Linked DNA regions of Homo sapiens: region 1 is linked to region 2. Evidence: fine-mapped expression QTL. A gene starts in region 2. The other region holds a variant in brackets. All regions are shown on one strand. Distances are between the middles of the regions. Region 1 overlaps TRPV3 (transient receptor potential cation channel subfamily V member 3). Region 2 holds the start of ASPA (aspartoacylase).

Evidence for each region. PIP is the estimated chance that this variant, and not a neighbour inherited with it, causes the effect. A credible set is the group of variants that fine-mapping cannot tell apart.
Region 1: its variant is the best candidate, but not a certain one, in a credible set for the expression of ASPA in putamen (GTEx, PIP 0.82).

The regions. Positions count from the first base shown.
Region 1 is chr17:3,497,920-3,514,009 of GRCh38, reverse strand. It overlaps TRPV3 (transient receptor potential cation channel subfamily V member 3), which reads left to right. Exons shown (of 18, transcript NM_145068.4): 18 at 1-3,508. The coding sequence ends at 93. ASPA (aspartoacylase) reads right to left here. Exons shown (of 6, transcript NM_000049.4): 6 at 10,605-15,119. The coding sequence ends at 14,922. It also overlaps a transcript of SPATA22 not described here. Among named protein-coding and RNA genes, the nearest start is that of ASPA, 30 kb to the right of the region's middle. RefSeq lists an enhancer at 3,473-4,011. The variant G/A (reference allele first, on the strand shown) is at 5,547.
Region 2 is chr17:3,471,850-3,480,962 of GRCh38, reverse strand. It overlaps ASPA (aspartoacylase), which reads right to left and starts at 4,966. Exons shown (of 6, transcript NM_000049.4): 1 at 4,568-4,966. The coding sequence starts at 4,803. It also overlaps a transcript of SPATA22 not described here.

The sequences.
Region 1 (16,090 bases), 30 kb before region 2:
TTCAACAAAATCCAAGATTCTTCCAGGAACAACAGCAAAACCACTCTCAATGCATTTGAAGAAGTCGAGGAATTCCCGGAAACCTCGGTGTAGAAGCGGAACCCAGAGCTGGTGTGCGCGTGCGCTGTCTGGCGCTGCAGGCGGAGTCACCGACTCTGTGCAGAGAGGCTTTGAGGGATGGTGGAGTCCGGCTCTGCTGGCCTAGAAGCAGAGTGCACCCTCGTGCTCAGTGCTCAGTGGGTGTCTGAACTGAGGGGCAGTTGTCAATTTGTCTGAGTGGGAAACATCCTGGATTTTGTTACTTGGCAAACAGCTGGTGTAAACCTACAGCCAGCAGCAGTCTGGAGCCTGGGAGCCTCCTGAAGTCCCGGGTGAAGCCTCTGGTTTTACCAATTGCAGGTCGGCTTGGCTGGGAGAGATGGATGGCGGGAAAGGGGCAGCAGTCTTGAGGAGCAGGGAGAGGAGTCTTTCCTCCTGCCAGCTTCCCCCGTCAGCCCCAACCCCAGCCCACACATTGTACCATCTCTTCTGCTGTGACTGGGTTGCCTGAATTTGTGGGAGACCCGTGATCCCATCCCAGAGTGTGCGGGGGACGGAGGTAAGCTGGATATCCTGGGGGAGGAGGGGAATGCGCTCTGGAAACACCCTTCCGGAACCCTTCGGGGAAAAGGAGACCATCCTTGGAGTGAACGTCCCCTGACACCCCAAGGTTCAAACTGTCTCAAGCTGAGAGATGTTTTTAGTAGCAGAATTAACACAGGGTTTTAACTTGCAATACGGAAAAGACATTTCAGTTGAGAATGAAAATTACTACAATGAAGTTTGTGATTTTAAAAGTGGAGACAGACTGGGGGCTTTGGGGCTGGATGTAAGTATTATATATTTGGCCTCAGGGTGCCCAGAGCAAGACAAAAAGCTTTTCTTCACACACACAAAAGTCTGCATGAGACACTCCGGGCAAGTCCTGCTGGGCCGCCGCGATCTGGGTGAAAGGTCCTGGCTCTTTTCCTCGTCCTGACCTCACAGTAGCGCGTGCCTGTGTGCTGGGATCGTGGCTTTCGCTGAAGCAGAAATAGCAGCTGCTCGATCGATATCATCTTGGAACTCAGCAGTTAGTCGCATACCTCAGTATGTCTCAGTGGGGGAATTTAACAAAATGCCTCAACTGCTTTGGTACGAAGTATTTTTTTTTTAATTTTAACTGTGAATTTTGAAGCTGAAGGGGAAGCTTGTGAGAGAAAAGCATTTGCCAAGACTTTGAGCTTATTTTTAGGTCCTCGTCCTCTGATGTTCTCTTTCTGAAATGACACGGAGTCAGTCTGGGGGGCAGAGGTGAAGTGGAGACGGAAGGATTTTCCAGGTGACTGGGGCCGAAACCACCAGAAAATCCACTCTGCCGCCGTTATCTGGTGAAAGGATTCATGTAAAAATGTTCGAGGTGGAATTATAAAAATAGTAACCATAAATGTTAATCTTAAATGGCAGAAATAGAAATTTGGCCTTCAGATAACATGGCGATAGATAAGTTCATCTGGCTTGAGGCAAACTGAAGAGTCGGGGCCTAGCAGTGCACTCTGGGCCAGTTTCTCTGCCCTGGGCCACTCTGTGTGCCAGACTAGCTGGACAGATAGAGACTTTGTGCCCCTGATGGGGCCGATTGGGGAGAGGTGGGCTGGGGTGTGTGAGGCTTCACAATCCACAGCAGCCCCTGCCCTCCCAGCTGACCCAGGGAGTAATCGCGTGCTCTAAGCCACAGTGGTCGGGGCTGGGCATGGGCCTCTGGAGAAGAGAAGATTTGAGGAGAACTGTCCTAGAGGCAGGAGGAGCAGATGTGTTTCAGAATGGGCAGAATTAGGAAATTGAGAAAGATTTTGGCTCAACAGAATCCAGCAACTGCTCCAGATGTTGGAGATGTTTAAGCAGAAGCTGGTTGCGCACTTAATGAGGAATGTTGTTGAAAATGGTCATTGGAAGAAGTTTAAGGTCCCTTTTAGCCTGGAGATTGTACAAATCAGCATTCCACATCTGGAGTTAGCTACCCGCATTAAGCCTGAACAGACATCTTGGTCTGAAAGGAAGTGGTTTGGATTCATGATGCCAAGCTCCACACTATGGAGCTGGGAATTCCAGAATTGCTTTGACTCAGATATTAATGGAGAAAGTCATATCCATTAATGGATAAAGCCGTATCTGTTATGGATAAAGCCGTATCCAGAGTTGCTTTGACTCGGATGTTAATGGATAAAGCCAATTATTGATTTCTATTTGCCTAACCTGCCAGCTTTTGTCCAAGTGGGGAATGGAGAGCCATAGGGATGTTTGTCATCTCACATGTTTTGGTGATCTGCTGTCTGTGGGTCTGGATGGAATTTGTTGGCAAGACCATTTTCTGTATTGGATATTCTTCCCAACAGTGTCCACCCCAAAAGGCTTTCAGCCAAAACGTCTGAGCCTAGGTAGGTTTACCAAGGGAAGCCATAAGTCAAGAAGCATCAGAGTGAAAAGGAGCACTTCCTTCATTTTACGCCCAGAGGCTAATGCTCCGAGAGGAATGTGTACTTGGGCAAAGTCATGCAGGAAGGTCATATCAGAGCTGTGGAGGCTGGAGTGTCCTGATTCTTGGACCACAGATGTCTCCCTGAGCCATTATTTATTTATTTTTAAAAAGCACAGTTATTCCATCATTTTGAGTCTTTGTATTTCGCTTATATTGGGGGGCAGGACTATTTTCTCAGGTGTCTCATTTGGCAGTCAACATTGTCCCCTATGTTCCCTATGACTAGTTGAAAATTCAAGTGTGCCCACAGGGGTGCACAAAACCACACCCATGCACACACACACCCTCAGCCCCCACACACACCCCGTTGAACCCGTGGGTCTATCAGGACATCCTAAAACTCCGTGATTGACATTTCAGTAATTTCAGGGGAAGGTGTTTTCCAGGGATGGGGTCTCCCAGGTTCAGATAGTGCCTTTGGCTGCAAATGCTCCTTTAGCTAAACTTTTCCTCAGGAAGAATTCATTATTCTAGACATTATGTGATATATCTGTTAGGAATAAAAGGTGCTTAACCTTCCTCCCTGGGATGTGGGAGAAGGTGCTGGAGGTTGTACTGTGAAGTCTTCAGGCTCTTAGAAGGCTCCAGCCTGAGAGAGCCCTTTATTATTGACATTCCTGTCCTTCCTCAAGGCCTGGTGACCTGTGACCTTTCGCTCTGGGCAGGGCCCAGGTAGATGGGCCGTCATCCGGGCCTGTAAGCCGTACTTGATTTCTGCATTGATTTACATATTTTTTACTGTGATCTTGGTTCCAAACACAGAATCGTCACCCCATTCTCCCTTGAATGTGCCGGATCCTTGTAAATTCTCATTTACCTACTTGTTCTTAGTGTGTATGTGTGTGCGAAACTCTATGTTCAAGAAAGAAATCATACAAAGAGTAAGAACATGTTTGTGCCATTGAAGAAATGGTTTTTTGATTTCTAATAAATATTTGTTTTGCCTCGTTATGGCCACGTTTTATCCTTGCGTTAGGTGTGCCAATGTGCAGATTGACTAGAAACCCTAGAGTGTTGTTAACAGGAGTGGGTAAAGGGAAGGCCCGTTTTTGGACCTGAAGCATTATCATTGGTTCCGGCTTAGGAACAGAGCCAGCAAGCCATAAGGCATGTCACCTTTGTACGTATTTGCATCTCAAAGCGCATTCACATCAGGTAGTCAATTCGAACCACTCAGCAGCTTTGGAAGCAGTTTCAATAAAAGGAGACTCACGGGCTTGAAGTGATGTGCCCAGGGATTCACAGCCACATAATGTCAGTGGTTCAGGCCATGAAAGCCCTCAAAGAGTGCTCTATCCACTTCTGCACAGCAAAACAAACTACCATCAGAGTGAACAGGCAACCTACAGAATAGGAAAAAATTTTTGCCATCTACCCATCTGACAAAGGTCTAATATCCAGAATTTACAAGTAACTTAAACATATTTACAAGAAAAAAACAACCCCATCAAAAAGTGGGCAAAGGATATGAACAGACACTTCTCAAAAGAAGACATTTACGTGGCCAACAAACATATGAAAAAAAGCTCATCATCACTGGTCATTAGAGAAATGCAAATCAAAACCACAGTGAGATACCATCTCACGCCAGTCAGAATGGCGATTATTAAAAAGTCAGGAAACAATAGATGCTGGAGAGGCTGTGGAGAAATAGGAACACTTTTACACTGTTGGTGGGAATGCAAATTAGTTCAACAATTGAGGAAGACAGTATGGCGATTCCTCAAAGATCCACAACCAGAAATACCATTTGACCCAGCAATCCCATTACTGAGTATACACCCAAAGGAATGTAAATCATTCTACTATAAAGACACATGCACATATATGTTTATTGCAGCACTATTTACAATAGCAAAGACATGGAACCAACCCAAATGCCCATCAATGATAGACTGGATAAAGAAAATGTGTTATATCTACACCACGGAATACTATACAGCCATAAAAAGGAATGAGATCATGTCTTTTGTAGGAACATGGATGAAGCTGGAAGCCATCATCCTCAGCAAACTAACACAGGAACAGAAAACCAAACACCACATGTTCTCACTCATAAGTGGAATTGAACATTGAGAACATATGGACACAGAGACGGGAACAACACACACCAGGGCCTGTTGGGGGGTAGGGGGTGAGGGGAGGGAACTTAGAGGATGGATCAATAGGTGCAGCAAAGCACCATGGCACACGTATACCTATGTAACAAACCTGCATGTTCTGCACCTGTATCCCCCCCTTTTTTTTTTGGAAGAAATAAAAAAAATGAGGGCTCTATCCATCATGGCTGTTGGCTGTCAAATTATTTTGAGTGAATAGAAACCCATGGTTCCACCTGGAGAACAGAAGGTATAAATCCCTCCTGTCCACCACGCAGGCTTTTCACAAGGAGGCAATGAGAGAATAGATAGGAAAGAGCTGATGTTCTTACTATCATTATTGCCGATCAGCCTAATTCATAGGTATATTCAGTTCTTCATTCCTTTGAGTGATTTCATAAGGATGGCAGTTCTTAACTTGAATGCCAAGTCTTTTTTTTTTTTTTTTTTTTTTTTATACTTTAAGCTTTAGGGTACATGTGTACGATGTGCAGGTTAGTTACATATGTATACATGTGCCATGCTGGTGCGCTGCACCCATTAACTCGTCATTTAGCATTAGGTATTTCTCCTAATGCTATCCCTCCCCCCTCCCCCCACCCCACAACAGTCCCCAGAGTGTGATGTTCCCCTTCCTGTGTCCATGTGTTCTCATTGTTCAATTCCCATCTATGAGTGAGAACATGCGGTGTTTGGTTTTTTGTCCTTGCGATAGTTTACTGAGAATGATGATTTCCAATTTCATCCATGTCCCTACAAAGGACATGAACTCATCATTTTTTATGGCTGCATAGTATTCCATGGTGTATATGTGCCACATTTTCTTTATCCAGTCTATCATTGTTGGACATCTGGGTTGGTTCCAAGTCTTTGCTGTTGTGAATAGTGCC[G/A]CAATAAACATACGTGTGCATGTGTCTTTATAGCAGCATGATTTATAGTCCGTTGGGTATATACCCAGTCATGGGATGGCTGGGTCAAATGGTATTTCTAGTTCTAGATCCCTGAGGAATCGCCACACTGACTTCCACAATGGTTGAACTAGTTTACAGTCCCACCAACAGTGTAAAAGTGTTCCTATTTCTCCACATCCTCTCCAGCACCTGTTGTTTCCTGACTTTTTAATGATTGCCATTCTAACTGGTGTGAGATGGTATCTCATTGTGGTTTTGATTTGCATTTCTCTGATGGAATGCCAAGTCTTGACTGCTTGTCTTGATGGGTTGTGGAACTTGCAACCAATTTGTTAATAAGTGAAATACTGCATTTGGTGAATTATTTACTTAATTCAGATGATTCCCAGAATAACTTCCTTCACTGGGATGTATCTTGTTGAGTGGCAGCAAGACAGGGATTGTACGTGATTCACATCCTAGCTTAATAGGCGTTAGTCCAAAACCTAGGAATGTGCCATCCATGGGGATGTTTTGGGTGGACGGGTAGAAAAAGGGTGGAAACCCTTGTCATAGGATATATTTCTGGGAAGGAGATGCCTAGGTCAATTGGTTTCAACATTTTTATGGTTCTTGATACTCTGAGAAATTACCTCCCCAAAGGATTCCTTCAATGCGTTCAGCCTTTGAGATTGTATGCTACACTGTTTACAAAGCTCTTCCGGTCATGTTGGTTATTGTTTTGTAGGTTTGGTGAGTGTCGTATCCCAGTTTAATAGGTAGGGAAATCGAGACTTGGAGACAGACGGAATGACATGCGAAGTTCACAATCCTTTCTCCTGGCTGGAGGATCCAGGTTCTCTGAAGTTTAGTTAGTCTAGTATCAAGAACTACCATTTTTCTCACTGCACCAGCAACCCCTCTGACAGTAACAGCAAAGTTCTGCAGAAAGGATTCAGTCCAACTCAAAAAATGTATCTCACTTACTATGTGTGAAGATTTAGAACCAATTCAACAAAAATTGAACATGAAGTATGGGCAATGATAGATGATACAAATATAAGTAAGACAGTTTCTTCCATTTAAGATGGTGGTAGGAGGGGAGAAGGACATGAATATTTATAAAGTGCCATGCACTTTACATACATGTCTCATTTAATGTTTATAGCAACCCTTGTTACTGTCCAGCTGTTCTATTTCTTTCATCGGTTTTCTGTTTTATTTTTTAAAACCATCATATTTTGTTATTTCAAAACCATCATACTTCTTAAACCTGTGACCCCACCATTTCCATATCAATAGCTGTAGTAGGTTTTATCCCTTATTTTACAGTGAAAATGGAAGCCATAAGTTGGAAACACCTTCAACTTGTGACCACCAAACCTGTGAATTTATTTGCACCCACATTCCTAAGCTTTGGTTGCCTTCGCCTCCCCACTCCCTCCTCCCCTCCCTCCCTTCCTCCCTCCCTTCCTTCTCTTTTCCTTCTCTCTCTCTTTCTCTCTCTCTCTTTTTCTGTCTTTCCGACAGAGTCTTGCCTTGTCACCCAGGCTGAAGTGCAATGGCATGATCTCGGCTCACTGCAACCTCCACCTCCCGGCTTCAAGCAATTCTCCTGCCTCAGCCTCACAAGTAGCTGGGACTACAGGCACCCGCCACCAAGCCCAGGTAATTTTTTGTATTTTTAGTAGAGACGGGGTTTCACCATGTTGGCCAGGCTGGTCTCAAACTCCTGACCTCAGGTGATCCACCTGCCTCGGCCTCCCGACGTGCTGGGATTACAGGTCCCTGTGCGTGGCCCTGCCTTTCACTTAGAGCAAGAAAACTCCTGTCTAGGGACCTCTCTCTATGCTCTCTATGCTCTTGAGCTTTCTTATGTTTCAAGACTGTGAAAGTTATTCTTTCCCTTAATATGTAGTTTCTAAAAATGACGTTTTTCTGTTAAACATTTAGTCTATCTGTAGCTAATGGGGCTTTAGTATTTTTTTCCCCTTAATTATACTACATTAATCCCCTATAGACCTCAGTTTTTTGGTTGACTTTGTTTGCTAGTCAAGTTCCTGTTCTTTTCTTGGCAGAATGGGGGAAACTTTAGTGCTGTTTTTGCTTTGATGGGATGTAAGCTTCTGGGCTGTGCCATTGACTTTGTGGTGTGTGCAGGTACCTCCCTGGAGTTTCATATTGTGCAACCCACCAAGCCTGATGGGGCAGCCCTGGGCGAAGTCCTCTCTGAGTGACCCTCTCAGTCATCGGCTTGGTAGGTGTTCAGGAACTACTGTCTGCCAAGTACTAGACTAGGGTTTTTGGTGTGTCTGCTTTGGGAACAGGCATACAAAGGTCTCTACAGGTAGATCACAAGCCTCTTGAAGGCAGTATGTGTGGGAAGTATAGAGATATTAGAAAAGCAGCCGGGCATGGTGGCTCACGCCTGTAATCCCAGCACTTTGGGAGGCCAAGGTGGGCGGATCACCTGAGGTCAGGAGTTCGAGACCAGCCTGACCAATATGATGAAACCCCATCTCTACTAAAAATATAAAAATTAGCCAGGCTTGCTGGCGCATGCCTGTAATCTCAACTACCCAGGAGGCTGAGGCACGAGAATCGCTGGAACCCGGGAGGCAGAGGCTACAGTGAGCGGAGATCATGCCACTGTACTGCAGCCTGGGTGACAGAGTGAGACTCCGTCTCAAAAACAAAAAAAAAAAAACAAAAAACAACAAACAAACAAAAAACCCCTAAGCAGCTATTTCCCTCCAGACTCTGTTTTTGTCGGATATGCAAATATGGGCCTTCAGACGCTCCCTGGTCCTGCTGCCCTGGAACATCCATGACCCGTATAGGCCTCTCTCCCTGGTCACCCCCATGGGACTCTCAGGCTTCAGGGTTTCCCCAGCTGCCACTTTTCATTTGCTCCTCCTATTGGAGCACTGCCTGTATGTGGTTCACCATTCCCACTCTCTGTGGTCTCCAGTGGCTATCTTGGGGTCACCCTTGTGAGGGAAGTGACAACCCGCTCTTCCAAAGAAGCCCTTCCAGATAGCTTCACACTCAGCAGAGCAACTCTCATTTATCCAGCAAAACGCACTGAGCTCCTTCTATGCGTGAAGTGCTGTGTGTACGACAAAGAATAAGACAAATGCTATCCCTGCTTTCTTGGAGCTTTTGCAGTTTAATCAGAGACAGACAATAACTTCACCTGCCCCGGTGTCATAAAGCATTACGGTTGCAATTTGGGTAAGTGCCAGTCTAGTACTGGCAATGAGCTTGTATAACAGAGTGGCCTAACCTAGCCTGAGTCATGTTTAAGAGTAGCGTCATTTAGCTAATGGAAGTGTGGAGATGGGGAAGCGTTTCAGTAAGTGGGAAAATGTGGGCAAAGGTGGTAGGGAACTTTGTGCATCTGAGGACTGGAGAAGTCTTATGTGGCCAAATTGCTGGGAGCAAGGGGCCAAGTGACATGAAATAAGGCTAGAGGGGTGGGCAGAGGCCAGTGCATGTAGGACTTGGACAGCCGTGGTGAGGCTTTGAGATCTCATAACAAGGGTAAGAAGCCACCAAAGGATTGTAAACAGGGGAATTGTTGAGTGTGAACATTTCCTTGTTTTAGCCTGGTGCGGCGGCTCCTGCCTGTAATCCCAGCACTCTTGGAGGCCGAGGTGGGTGGATCATCTGAGTTCGGGGGTTCGAGACCAGCCTGACCAACATGGAGAAACCCCGTCTCTACTAAAAAAATACAAAATTAGCCAGGCGTGGTGGCGCATGCCTATAATCCCAGCTACTCAACAGGCTGAGGCGGCAGAATCGCTTGAACCCAGGAGGCAGAGGTTGCGGTGAGCCGAGATCATGCCATTGCTCTCCAGCTTGGGCAGCAAGAGTGAAACTCCATCTCAAAAAAAAAAAAAAAAAAAAGAAAAGAAAATTTCCTTTTTTTTTTCCCATGGATTTGCAGACTTAAATGGTTGTTTTTTCCTTCCACTGTCCTTTGGGACATAGTAACAGTCTGGAGGGTGTAAAACGAAGTGTTTCACTTGGGAGTGATGGGGACAGTTCTCAGGAGGTGACTGGGAAGGAAGATAAAAAGAAAGGCAGGGCCATTGGTGGAAGATGAAGATGTTCCAGTAGAGAAGGGATGTTTGAGCATGCTCATTTATTCAACTCACCTCTATTGGTCACTTTCTAGATTGTAGACATCGAAAAAGACACTGCTGATGCCCTCAAGATGGGATAGAAGGAGGGGCAAAGTGGCAACAAAGTCAGGTCGACGAAGACCATGTTGGCTATGAAATGAAAGTTGGGTTGCATTTTGAAGGAGAAAAAGGCATTATTGGCTAGAGCGCAGTCTGAGGTGGGGTGGGAGGTGGAGGACAGTGGGGGAGAGTTCTGGGTAGGGGAGTCAGTCTATGTAAAGGCCTAGAGGAATAAACAGTGGGAAGGACACTGGAGTGGAGATGGCCCAAAGGGAGATGAGTGTAGGGAGGCGTCGGGGAGGGAGGGCAGATCAGGAAGGGCCTTTTGTGCTAGGAATTTGAACTTCAGTGATTTGTTAAGTATGTATTCTGTGCTAAGCACTGAGCTAAGTGCTTATATGTCTTAGCCCACTTAATCCTCACAGTAACCCCATGAAAGGGGCACTATTATTATTATCATTCCCATTTTATAAATGAGAAAAATGCAAATGTAGATTGTTAGAAATAATCAAAGTAAAATAAAACTCAAAGTGGCTAAAACCACACAGCAATATGTTATAGATTAAAAACAAACAAACCAACCACACATCTAATTAGAAACTTTAAAGACTGTAAAAGGGAAGATTAGACTTGATAGGAATAATCAACCCTGAAACCCACTGAAACCACAGTGATATAAATTGTACACTGTAAATTTTACAAATAACTAAAATTTGAGGGAAGAATATTCTTGCCAAAATTTTCATCTGGAAAAAGCTGACCTAGAAAAATTGGACTCAGAAATAGGACACAACGGAACATTCACAGCAGGAGAAGGAAGCTTGGTAAATCTTATGTACAAAAGCTGATAAATCACATTTTTACTACAGAATTCAGAAGGAAGAGAGTTTATTCCAATGTAAATAATTTTGGTAAAGTACAAAAATAGAAAAAAATGCTGAAAAATTTAGAAAGAATATGGGCTTTCCAGAACACTGAGTATGGAGTAAAACTGGCATAGTGGGGTTCACTTTGGAAGAATGAAAATGTATAAATATATAATATTTATTCATTCATTCATTCATTCATTCATTCCAGATAATGTTAGTATTTTTGGTAAATACATTTGAAACTATGATTATGGATTCATTGGGGGTACAGATCATGGAATAAAAACACTCTTTATTGGCTGCTGTGGCCTAAGAGGATGGCGGGGAGGGCCCTGGTGGGGCTGGAGAGGGAGGGGGCGGCGTCCAGCAGAAGGTCCTTTGAGGAGAAGAATCATGGGAGGCAAGGGGTTTGGGCATTTAGGACATGGCAGGACTTCTTGAAAGACTGTATTTGCAAACCATAGCTGTGGGTCACATTTCTATGTGTGTCCAGTGCCCTGTTGTTGACTTTCACCACCTCTGCTGGCAACAGCTGGAGCCCAAAGACCTCCTCACACCTTGCCTGCGAATAAGGGTGGGCATATTCTTTCAAAATGAGAAGTGACAGCTGTGAAGAATAGGCCTCTTCCAAATTTTCCATGTTGGGAAGAAACATTAGCTCCTCAGGGGGTGCGTGAGGTGTCTGAAGGAGGTTCTCTGCTCCATGAGGTCAGTGCAGAGCAGTGGGCATGCCACAGTAGCAATGCTGTGTGGGTTACTGTTTGTGGACAAAGGGCCATTCAGTTTCTTAATATAGTCATATGTCATCTTTACCATTAAGCCCTTGTTTCTCTTTCATATTTCATCTACAAAACAGCACTTAAAAGTCTCCTCTGGATTTCGCAACGAATGCTGAAGTTTATAGACTGGACGCTTAGTATATTACCATTAACCCAAATATAAAAATTGAAAAAAATAGCAATTCTGCACAACTCATTTCTACTAGCACTTATACATTACAGGCATACCTCAGAGATATTTCAGCCTTGGCTCCAGATCACCACAATAAAACAAACATTATAACAGATGAGCCACACATATTTTTTGATTTTCCAGTACGTGTAAAAGTTATGCTCACACTATATGTAGTATGTTAAATGTGTAATAGCATTATATCTAAAACATGTACATTCCTTCATTAAAAATGCTTTATTGCTAAAAAAGCTAACCATCATTTGAGCTTTCAGCAATTCATGATCTTTTTGCTGGTGGAGGGCCTTGCCTTGATGATGGCTGCCTGATCAGGGTGGTTGGGCACTGAGGGTTGGGATGGCCGTGACAATTTCTTAAAATAAAACAACAAGTTCGCTGCATTGATTGACTCTTCCTTTCGTGAAAGATTTCTCTGTAGCATGAAATGCTGTTTAATAACATTTTATTCACAGTAGAACTCATTTTTTTTTTTTTTTTTTTTTTGAGATGGAGGCTTGCTGTGTCCACCAGGCTGGAGTGCAGTGGCGCAGTCTTGGCTTACTGCAACCTCTGCCTCCTGGGTTCAAGTGATCCTTCTGCCTCAGCCTCCCAAGTAGCTGGGACTACAGGCACGTGCCACCACGCCTGGCTAATATGTTGGTATTTTTAGTAGAGAGGGGGTTTCACCATGTTGGCCAGGCTGGTCTCGAACTCCTTACCTCAGGTGCTCTGTCTGCCTTGGCCTCCCAAAGTGCTAGGACGACAGGCATGAGCCACTTCTCCCAGCCGAACTCATTTCAAAATAGGAGTCAATCCTCTTAAACCCTGCTGCTGCTTTATCAACTATGTTTACGTAATATTCTAAATCCTTTGTCATTTCAACAGTGTTCACAGCATCTGCAACAAGAGTTGATTGCAGCCAAGAAACCACTTTTTTGCTCATTTATAAGAAGCGACTCCTCATCCATTCAAGTGTGATCATGAGATTGCAGCAGTTCAGTTACATCTTCAGGCTCCACTTCTCATTCTCTTGCTGTACATCTGCATGACTTCCTTTACTCAAGTCTCGAATTCCTCAGAGTCATCCAAGAGGGTTGGAATTCACTTTTTCCAAACTCCTGTTAATGTTGATATTTTGATCTCCTCCCACGGATCCTGAATGTTCTTAATGGCATCTGGAATGCTGAATCCTTTCCAGAGGTTTTCTGTTTACTTTGCCCAGCTCCATCAGAGGAATCACTATCTATGGCAGCTATAGCCTTATGAAATGATTTTTTTCTTCCTTTCTTTTTTTTCTTTTTTCTCCCCTCCCCCAGCCTGAAATGTATTTCTTAAATAGTTAGATTTGAAAGTCACAATGACGCCTTGATCCATGGGCTTCGGCTGGATGTCGTGGTAGCAGGCGCGAAAACAATGCTAATCTCTTCGCACATCTCCAGCAGAGCTCTTGGGTAACATGGTGTATTGTCAATCAGCAGTAGTATTTTGAAAGGAATTTTTTTTTTTCCCAAGCAGTAGGTCTCAACAGTGGGCTTAAAATATACAGTAAACCATGCCGCAAACAGATGTGCTGCCAGCGAGGCTTTGTTGTTCCATTTATAGAGCTCAGACACAGCAGGTTTAGCATCAGTCTTCAGAGTCCTACGATTTTTGGGCCGGGCGTGGTGGCTCATGCCTGTAATCCCAGCACTTTGGGAGGCCGAGGCAGGCGGATCATGAGGTCAGGAGATCGAGACCATCCTGGCTAGCAGAGTGAAACCCCATCTCTACTAAAAAAATGCAAAAAATTAGCCGGGCGTGGTGGCAGGCACCTGTAATCTCAGCTACTGGGGAGGCTGAGGCAGGAGAATGGCATGAACCTGGGAGGCGGAGCTTGCAGTGAGCCGAGATTGCGCCACTGCACTCCAGCCTGGACGACAGAGCAAGACTCCGTCTCAAAAAAAAAACAAAAAACAAGAGTTTTAGGATTTTTGAAACAGTTAATGAGCTTTGGCTTTAACCCAAAGTCACCAGCTGTGTTAGCTCTTAAGAGAGTCAGGCTGTCCTTTGAAGCTTTGAAGCTAGGCATTCATTTCTCCCCTCTAGCTAGGAAAGTCCTAGATAGCATCTTCTTCCAATAGAAGGCTGTTTCAACTACACTGAAGATCCGTTGTTTAGTGTAGCCATCTTTGTCAATGATTTTAGCTACATCTTCTGGATAACTTGCTACAGCTTCCACATCAGCAACTTGCTGGTTCGCTTTCCACTTGTAGGTTTTAGAGCTGTCTTCTTTCCTTAAACCTTGTGAACCAACCTCTCCCAGCTTCCTGCAGCTTCCTCACCTCTCTCAGCCTTCACAGAATTGAAGAGAGTTAGGGCCTTGCTGTGGGTCATGCTTTGGCTTAATGTGTGGCTGGTTTGATCTTCTATCCAGACCACTAAAACTGTCTCCATATCAGCAATAAGGTTGTTTTGCTTTCTTATCATTTGTGTGTGTGCACTGGAGTAGAATTTTTAATTTTCTTCAAGATCCTTTTCTTTGAATTCACAACTTGGCTAACCAGTGCAAGAGGCCTAGCTTTCAGCCTGTCTCAGCTTTTGACATGCCTTCCTTACTAAGCTTAATTTCTAGAAGTATGACCCTTTCTTTCACTTGAACACACAGAGTCTGCTGTAGACTTATTAATTATTGTGTCTCAAGGAACAGGGAGGCCAGAGGACAGGGAGAGAGACAAGGAAATGGCCGGTCAGTAGAGCAGTTAGAACTCACACAACATTCACTAAGTTCGCAGTCTCACATGGGCACGATTCATGGTGCCCCAAAACACTTAACAACAGTAACATCAAAGGCCACTGATCACAGATCACCATAGCAGATATAATAAATAAATCATAAAAAAGCTTGAAATATTATCAAAGGGTGACACAGAGACAAGGAGTGAGCACATGCTGTTGGAAACATGGCACTGTTAGACTTTCTAGACACAGGGTTGCCAAAAACCTTCAATTTGGAAAAAAAGTACAAGTACAGTATCCGTGAAGTGTAGTAAGGCAAAGCACAATAAAACAAATAACTTTATATATATCTATTTCAATTTTATATTCTGAATACAAAGGCTGTTTATTAAGAATGTTGAGCTACCCAAGTATCATGTATAATAAACTATATAGAAATAGGAAACACTTCTTTGAATAAGCTACATACATAAAATATGATATCTTTAAAGATATATTAATTAATTTAAGAAATGTGCTTAGATGCCTACCGAATAAGGCACTGTGCTAGGAGCTATGTATGCAGTTGAATAAGGCACAACCCTACTCTTAAGGAGCTTACAGACTAGCAGAATTTGTAAGACACCGTGTAAGATGTAAGCTGGAAGTGATTTCTAATGTAAACAGCAGCGAATACTTTTTGCATTGAGCGTTAGTTTAGTTGTCTTTGCAAAAGCTTCTTTCTTTTCGTAATATGCGGCCTCATTCACAAACACGGGGTACACGGTACAGTCTCCGCCCAGTGGGATCGTCTTCCCATCAAGAGTTAAAAACATGGGATCCCCAGGATGCAGTGGTTTCCAGTCTTGATCCTCTCAGGAAACAATCAAAATAAATATATTATATTTGGTTTTTCTCCTCTAAAAATTTATGTCAGACTCTAGACAACTAACAAATTACAGTATTCTGTTGTTTTAAAAGAGATACTTGAGCGAGGCATTGAGATGCAGGCAAGTGATCTGACTGCGCTGACATTGGGTCGTGAATTTTGGCAGTAGTTTTAAGAGTTCCCCTTTGCATTTGTATAATTGAAACGTGTAATTAACATTTGCTTCAGCCAGGTGCAGTGGCTCCTTGCCTGTAATCCCAGCACTTGGGGAGGCCAATGTGGGTGGATCGCTTGAGCCTAGGAGTTCAAAACCAGCCTGGGCAACACAGAGATCCTATCTCTAGAAAAAATACGAAAAATTAGCTGGGTGTGGTGGTGCATGCCTGTAGTCCCAGATACTCAGGAGGCTGAGGTGGGAGGATTGCTCAAGCCCCCAGAGGTTGAGGCTACAGTGAGCTATGTTCACACCACTGCACTCCAGCCTGGGTGACAGAATGAAACCCTGTCTCTAAAAAAAAATAAAAAAGAGTTTGCTTCAATACCAGGTTTACCTTGAATGTAGCCAAAGAGATTTATAATATTAAAAGGCAAAACTAAATGCATGTCTACCTAAGTGCATAGTCTGCCTGTTGCCAGCTCAAGTTAAATTCTGTTCAGCAAAATTTAGGAAATATCCATTAGGAGTCTTCTGTGTGCAAGACATTCTACCGTTGGGAAATATAAAAATGAGCCATGTTGTACCTGCATACAAGGAGATTCTATTCTGACGGGGATTGGTGAGAGAAGGTGGTGCTGGGCTGGGGAGAGTCTGGGACAAGGTGGGTGTATTCCAAATGTGCTCCTACATTAGGGTAACAACTGAGTTATCTGAAGGGTCCCGCACCAGGGATTTGGACCTTTGAGCCCTCAAGCACCATGGCTGTCACACCACGGGAACCCCAGAACAGTTCTTCT
Region 2 (9,113 bases):
TCTTTTGTGGAGATACAGTCTTGCTCTGTTGCCCAGGCTGGTCTTGAACTAAAACTGCCTTTGCAAAAATTATAACTGAGACAATTATTACAATGAAAGAGATCTAACCTGACTCCATCTTGCTTCTAATCTCCAAGCTATCCTTGTTCATGCCTGGGTGTAAACTGAACTAACTTTGGGAGGAACTTACAGCTTAACTTTGAAACAAAGATGATAACAGCCCTTTCCCAAAACAAGCCCCCTTCCTACCTGGGGACTAGACTGCCTTTGCAGGACTAACAAATTAGCCACAAGATGAGAAATTATGGTTTAGGAGTCATGCAGCTGGAGGGCCGCAAGATTCTGAACCTCCTGAAATTGCTCCTGGGGATAACATCACTATTGTAAAACCTAAGATCAGGGCTTGAGATATTTTGTAAACCCTGAGTTGACAGATCAGCTGGCACCACCCAGATGGATAAACTGGCTTATCTGGTCTCGTGGTCCCCACGTAGGAACTGATTCAGCGCAAGAGGACAGCTCCAACTCCCTATGATTTTACCTTCAATCTGATCAATCAGCACTCCCGACTCACTGGCCCCCTACCCACCAAATTATCCTTAAAAATTCCAGTGTCTGAATTTTCGGGGAGACTGATTTGAGTAATAATAAAACTCTGGCCTTCTGTACAGCCGGCTCTGTGTGAATTAAACTCTTTATTGCAGTTCCCTTGTCTTGATAAATCAGCTCTGTCTGGGCAGCGGATGAGGAGAACTTGCTGGGTGGTTACAGAAGTCTTGGCCTCAGGCAATCCTCCTGCCTTGGCCTCCCAAAGTGCTGGAATTACAAGTATGAGCAGCCACACCTGGCCTAATTAGAGATTCTTAATTGAGGTCCAGGAACCACTAGAGGTCCAGGGACAGAGTTTTCAGAGTCTAACCTCTCCAAAAAGGCCACAAGTTTGCAGGTACAGATATATGTATTTTTTTTCTGGCACAAGGGCCAGTAGTTTTTCTTCCATTCTCAAATGGGCCTCTACCCTCTCCCCACTTCCCACAATGGTTAAGATACATTTTTTTTCTAGATATAATAATGTTTTTCATTTACTTTTCCTCATTAAACCGTTCAACCACATTTTCCTAAAATTCCATCTATTTGTATTCCTTGGTTATTTTTGCTAGTATCTTCAAGGGACCTACTGTGTACAATGGGCTAATTCCTGCCTGGAATGAGATCAGGAAGGTGGAGTAGTTATTTTGTGACTTTGAAGCAAAAACCATGAGGACAAAGCCGGCATCTTGAGATAGTGCACTGGGAAGGTAGAAGGGACCACGTCGAGTCGGTGCAGGGGGAAGGTGGAAAGGGCCACGTTGAGATGGTGCAGTGGGAAGGTGGAAGGGGCCATGTTGAGACAGTGCTGTGGGAAGGTAGAAGGAGCCTGTGGCATTGATGATATCATGTGGCCGCTCCATCAGCCCTGGACAGCCTACTTCTGGACTTATTATTTGTGAACAAGAAACCCTTATTTGTTTAAACCACTATTCTTAGGTTCCTATTGTATGCAAACCAAGCCTAATGGATATTTATACATTTTAAAAGTTAATTCATGAAATAACCCCCTGAGGTCGCGCCCGACAATTTTGGTTCTATATCATTCTTCCGCATTTGAGTAAATGGTGCTAGTATCTACCCAGTTGCTCAGAGTCAAGTCTGGAAGTTTTCAAAAAGATGGACACTTTTGAGTTCTCATGCCTGCAGTTGAGCTCCCATTGGAAGAGTCCCAAGGGATGAAGAATAGGGAAGAGTGAGATTCTGAAGGGCATTAGCCATACTAAGTTGATTAAATCTATTCTGGATACATTTTTAAAGAATTTTCAGCAGGGGAGAGACATGATAAGATTTGCATATTAGGATGATTCCTAGAGGTATCAGATGGAAAATAGATGACAGGAAGGGTCAGAGCAAGTCTGGATGCAGAGAGACCCTTTAGGAGGCTATTCTAACTGTCCACAGAGGAAATCAACTAAGGTAGTAAAACTGGAGAGGAAGGCTGGATTTGTGAAGTACTTGCAAGGAATAATTGGGAGGACTTAGTGACCCACTAGACGTGGGAGACAAAGGACTGGGAAGGTTCTAGGGTGATTTTCACAGGGGACTTGGTGGATAATGATGCCACCACTGAGATGAGGAATATAGGAAAATGAATAAATTTGGGAGAGGCAGGATGGGAGAAGTTAATTAGTTTATCTATTTTATAATTTTTCAACCACGCTGGGAACAGTCTAGTCTCTGAACAGTGTTAACAGTAAGGAGCAGAAAGTGAATTTAAGTGAAAAGACTGTGCTCACTGAAATGCATACTACTGGGTGCTCATAAACTCACCCCAGTCCATTTCACACCTATTTGGGAAGTTAATATGCCGACTAAAAGTTATCCTTCAACAAATTCTTACTTGTAATATAGAAGTTAGTTAACAGCTCTCTTAGGTCAATAGATAAGCATGAATTGTGTTGACATAACCTCAGTCATGAAGATAAAGCATTTCTCAAATTAAAATTTATGCTAGTAAAAATATGATTTGATACAAACAGGATGACTGCAGTATAATTGCCCTGAAAAACATCTATTCCATAAAGTGAGGCATGTTTCTATTAAGAGTAGTGTCCATGTTTTGATCTGTGTTGAGACTAAACCTAAGGAGTGATCTAACTCAAATTAGAGTTGATCAGAAAACAAGCACATAGAACAGTGGCTAGTTGTGCCTGTGCATATCTTATATATATATATATTTTTTTTTTTGAGACGGAGTCTCGCTCTGTCACCCAGGCTGGAGTGCAGTGGCACCATCTCTGCTCACTGCAAGCTCCGCCTCCCAGGTTCACGCCATTCTCCTGCCTCAGTCTCCCGAATAGCTGGGACTACAGGTGCCCGCCACCATGCCCGGCTAATTTTTTGTATTTTTTTTAGTAGAGACGGGGTTTTACCGTGTTAGCCAGGATGGTCTTGATCTCCTGACCTCATGATCTGCCTGCCTCAGCCTCCCAAAGTGTTGGGATTACAGGTGTGAGCCACTGTGCCCGGCCATGTATCTTATATCTTAGCTAGTAGTCTACCAACTCCTTGAGGGGTAGAAACCAAGTTGTATAGAGCTGTGTACTCCCCCAGTACCTGGCACAGTTTCCTGAGAAAAACAGATGTTTCAGAATATTTTTTAGTAAAAGAAAAAAAGCGGCCCAGCGCGGTGGCTCATGCCTATAATCCCAGCACTTTGGGAGGCTGAGGCAGGCAGATCACCTGAGGCCAGGAGTTTGAGACCAGCCTGGCCAACATGGAGAAACCCCGTCTCTACTAAAAATACAAAAAATTACCCGGACATGGTGGCAAGTGCCTGTAATCCCAGCTACTCGGGAGGTTGAGGCAGGAGAATCACTTTAACCCGGAGGTGGAGGCTGCAGTGAGCTGAGATTGCACCATTGCACTCCAGACTGGGCAACAAGAGCGAAACTCCATCTCAAAAAGAGAAAGAAAGAAAGAAGTGGTAAAAAGCAAATATGTGGAGTCATATTATATCCACAGTGGTAGCTATTATGATGTAAACGAAGGCAAAAATAATTAATAAGGACCTAACCTAGCATGTTATGACTGCTTACGTTGTATGCAATATATTACAAATCAGCAAAATATAAGCTCTGAAAATTCAGATGGTGTCTTTAGTTCTCATCTCTGGTATCCCATCTACAACAATCCACCATGGAAGTTAAGTACGTCTGCTACTTCGGATCACAGGGAGGTCTGATGTCTTTATTTTTATTTATTTATTTATTTTTTTGAGACGGAGTCTTGCTCTGTCTCCCAGGCTGGAGTGCAGTGGCACAATCTTGGCTCACTGCAAGCTCCGCCTCCCGGGTTCACGCCATTCTCCTGCCTCAGCCTCCCAAGTAGCTGGGACTACAGGCACCCGCCACTACGCCCGGCTAATTTTTTGTATTTTTAGTAGAGATGGGGTTTCACTGCATTAGCCAGGATGGTCTCGATCTCCTGACCTCGTGATCCGCCTGCCTCGGCCTCCCAAAGTGTCTGATGTCTTCTGACAAAAGATATTTAATCACGCTTTCATTCAACAAATATTACTTGAAACATTACATTTTTTGAACTAGAACTTTATGCATTACCGTAAGCATAGTTGCTTGAAAACGTAGTGAATTTCCTAAAAAGCTAACAATTTTATATGCAAGCATAGTGGCCAAACACTAACTCAATGCAAAGGAGTATTAAATCTGTTTCTTTAAAGGTATGATTTTAAAACAAAACCCTTTTCTATTTATTGTCTCAGTCTGTATACATTTGAAAAGAAAACTTAATAATCTGGTGCTTAAGAAGGTTTATAAAAGAGCATGTGAATGCCCAGTTTAGATAATTGTGCAATTCACAATGCAGTATAATTAAAAGTGAAAGTGATCTTATTCAACATACGACTGCATGTACGGACATGAATTATCATCTGCATATACATATATGTGTTCTCTTTCACACACCTACCACTTTTCACACAACATACATACATATACAATACAAAGCATAGTCTTACCCAAGATTTTCAAGGTCAAAAATGCGATTCAGGTCACAGTCAATATATCTGGTACACTTCTTCACTGCTCTGGGGTTAGTAATAAATGGTTTTACCTCCAGCCCTGTTCTCTGAATCTCAGCGCCATTCTCTAGCCAATGCTTAACCAGAAATACTCCGGTTAGCTCATTCCCATGGGTTCCTCCAAAGATAGCAACCTTTTGTATATGTTCTTCAGCAATGTGACAAGAAGTCATTTCACCAAGTAGTTTTTATCTGATTTCTGCAATTCAGAAGAGAGATCAAAGGAAATTCGATTTTCTTAAGAAAGGTTTAGAAATGTAAATGAGACTTTACCCAAAGGGCAAAGTACAGAATTCCCTTGAGTGGAGTATATTTTAATTTTCTGTTACAAGTTCTGAGCCCCGTTTATGGACACTCCCTTCTTTAGCCCTGCCCTTTGCCATATTTGGATTAAAATATGCAAAGATCAACTAGAGATACAGCTGTTTACTTTAACTTCTAACTCCCTCAGATGGTCAGTAGATCTAAATACAGTAATAAATTAGCATTTCATACTAATACAAAAATTCCATTCTTTTCCTCAGCTAGGATGTCATCCAGTGAGGCTTTCACAATTATCTGTAATAATAAAAATAGTTTATACGTTTCTAATTTCACAAAATAAAAAAGTGGCCCACTCAGTATTTCCACGGGCATTTCAAAACATTTCTTCTCTGAAATGAGTTCAAGCACTTTTCATGATCTGAGGGCATTTGAATCTCACCTCTATAAACAGCCAAAGGCTGACCCTCAGAGACCTCCTCTTGAACCGGCGCCCATTCTTTCAGAATGCTTTTTCACAATCAGAAACAGAAGGGCCAAATCAATGATCACTTGGGACTCGAAAAGCTACCCTGAAACATCCCTTCATTTCTTTCTCATGAGGTTTTTGGTAATTCTGTGTTAACTTACTTATGAATCTTCCTCATTTTTTGCCTAAATACCAAAGGAAAGACAACTGTTAGTACTTTTCAAGTTTTTGTGATGCCTGAAAATGTCTTGGGACACACTGCATGTGCTAACCACATCATGTGAACTTACATAGACACAGCCTTATTCACTGTCAGCGGGGACTCTCCACTGGACTGTGTTACTCAAAAAGGGGTCTTATTAGGGGAAATTTTCCAGAATACTAAGATGATTACATCCCTTTGGAGAAATGACTCTGAGCCAAATCTGATTTGATTTCATGCTCAGTCACCCAGAAAGTCACATATGTTCAAGTACTGGGAATACCATGTACTAGTAACGCCAGGTTGTTTGATAGAGGGTACAATAAGAGTAATTTATTACAATTGCAGAGTTTAATTTATAATGTCCTTTCACTCAGTTTATTCATACATTAATTTTATACGATAGGGTGGGTTAGGTGTTGACATCCCCACTGCAGGGGTAAACGAAAGAGAGGTTAAGTAACTCAGTTAAGGTTCTGCAGGGATGTAGGAGAACCTAGGCCTGAGACCCATGTTTCTCATCCCAAGTCTAGTGTTTTTCACAGGACAATAGGGTGCCTCTCTGTTATTTTTGGTCTTCTTCACAGTTCTAGTTTTGCTCTTTCAGAATTCACATAAACAGCCATTACAGTGTGCTCAGGAAACAAACATGCATACAAACCAAATACATGGTGGAAAAATAAAATATGAATGCTTCCTAATATTTAATAAACCCACTGAATGTTCTTCCTTTAAGAGCTTATAATGCAGAGATAGAGAAAGCAAAATAACCACATCAAATCTATGCATTAAAATGACTGTTCTAATAGAAAAAAAAAGCTCCTGTAGGCTTTGACTGTCTGTCCACATCCATGTACACTGAACACTTCAGACGGTGTAGAGATGATGAAAACACACGTAAAAGTAAACAGATGACAGTTGTTTAGTTGCTTTGGTTTTAAGAGCAGTAACCATGGTGAATTATTAACACTCTACTATGCTTGGTTTCTTTTCTGCTGATTTGTAGTTTGTTCTGTCCTTTGCCCTAGTCTCTCTGGAAATGCTGCTTCAGTTATTTACTCGTAGCTGGCACAAATGACTTGCATTTTGAAGCTTGTTTTATGGAATTTTAACAGATCAGCACTTTGAAGCACATTTCACATTCATAAATAAAGTTTCTCTTACATGTCAAAATGAATAACTTTTTTGAGAGTTAATGAATTGCAGCAATTATTTCCCATACTTACCTTGTTTTTTGTGTACAGAGTTTGTCTTCTGTGGAAAGCTTTATTAGGAAAAAGGAGAGCATTTCCTCAGAAGTAGAGCAACAGAGGCTTTTCATACTCTTATACCAAGTTAACTTCCGAAAGATTTTTAACTCCCTGTTTCCCAAAGTGTACTTGATTTTTGGGATGACCCAAAAAACCACACTTTTTTATTAGTTCTCAGCGAACTGATAGTATACGAAGTGAAACCCTTTCGAATTGTCACTATCTCATTATTAAGTTGAATATATAATATTCTGAAGTACTTAAAAGAGTAAGCATAACTTCCAGCATTACAAATGTTTTGTGGGATAGAGTTGCCTGATGTATTAATAAAATAATGTAGTTTAAAACAAAAGGATGCCAGGTGTGGTCTCATGCTTGTAATCCCAGCACTTTGGGAGGCCGAGGTGGGCGGATCACCTAAGGTCAGGAGTTCGAGACCATCCTGGCCAACATGGTGAAACCCCGTCTCTACTAAAAATACAAAATTACCTGGGCGTGGTGGCGGGTGCCTGTAATCCTAGTTACTCAGGAGGCTGAGGCAGGAGAATCACTTGAACCTAGAAGGCGGAGGTTGCAGTGAGCTGAGATTGTGCCATTGCACTCCAACCTGGGGAACAAGAGCGAAACTCCGTCTCAAAAACAAAACAAAACAAAACAAAAGGAGAGCAGAGTTTTACTTCACAGTCATGGCTGTCCAGTAGATCCCTGCCAGAAATTTTGTAGGAGACAAATTTAAGGTGGGTTGTTTCCCAAATGGTATGACTGGGGGATAAGAAGGGTTTTTTGTTAAATATTATACATAAGATGTCTCATACATAATGTGATGTTCAGTAGTTATGTAATCAAACTACTTTTACTACTTTAGTTTTCTCCTTCCCTGTGATCCATCCTGACCAACTTTCCAGGTGGAAATAAATAAGCAGAAAAAGACAAGTATAAAACAGATTAAGTTTATAAACTGCTAGCAAATATTCTATATTGCTCATGTCTGCAGTCCCTACAGAAGTAATCGGCTTAAGGTGGTTTTTTTTTTTTTTTTTTAATGAAAAATCTATTTTTGGGGTGGGTGGGTGTGTGTTGTAAATGTATGCACATCCGTATGTAGATATCAAGTCAAAATCTGCTTCCCTGAAGCTTCTATTCATGTTTTGGGTAACTCCTCTCTGGAACCATGATAAATAACAAGTTTTATTTTTATTGTTCAAGTCTTCTTCTTCCCAAAATAAAAGATGGCCCTATTCCTTGAAAGCTGTTCCTTACTCTGGCATTCAAGGTCTGCTATTATCTGGTCTCAGTCTACATCTAATATTATTTTCTAACACTCTTCTTTACTTGAGATAGTTTTAAAGCAACTACTAAAATGTCTGTGGTCTTATAGGCCTAGGCCTTTACTAACAATCTTCCTTTCATCTCTAAGCCCTTCCCTATCCCAGTCTTCAAATGGTTAGAAGATACGGTAACAACAAAACATGGGCTTTGAACTCAGACAGCTCTAGAATCCACTACCTGGCCCATAGTAAGTTCCGGATAAATGGCAGCTACTGTTACTCAAATTAAATAAGGGCTAACAGTTACTGGGCATTTACTGTGTGCCAGGATTGTCTATTTCATCTTCTAGTATTTTTAGGGCGATTGTTGTTATTGTTCTTTTACTGGTAGGTCCAGAGGGTGTTCAGTAAGTAACTTGCCCAAGGTCACAGGGCCAGGAATCCACAGTCCTCTTTGCCAGGAAGCCTGGAGCTCAACGCCCAGGGTCGCACACCACGCGGCTTCCCCTGCAGAGCGTCTCTGCGGCTCACGGGCGCTTCCCTCCCGCAAGCTCCCGCAGCCCCGGCGCTGCCTCGCTGACGGCTCTCCGCCTTCCATGGCCGCCATCTGAACCTGGGCTTCAGCTCTGTCCCCAGCCTCCCGGGGACTCAGATTCCCTGACCCTGATCCGACCCAGAAATTGAGCCAGACACCTCGGGTGGCCTTCGAGTCAATCTCTGGGCACACTCTGGGTGGCCACCAGCATCTAACAAACGGATGTCTGGACCCTAAGGGCCAGGGGGTGAGGGGAAGTGGGGCACACTTTTTAGACGATGGTGGGGCTGAGGCCGGTTGGGCAGGAGATCTGCCTCTGTCTCTCCAGTCACAGGACAGTCTCCTTTCCTCTCTGGGCAAAACTCTAAGGAGCTGGAGCCATCCCTGGGTCCACAGTGTGAGAACGCCAAGGAAGAGCGTTAACGTCATCGCGCCCGGCCAAGGGCGGCCAGGCAGGCAGCGAAGATGCCATCGCGCCGAGGTGGCGGCCACTGCGCC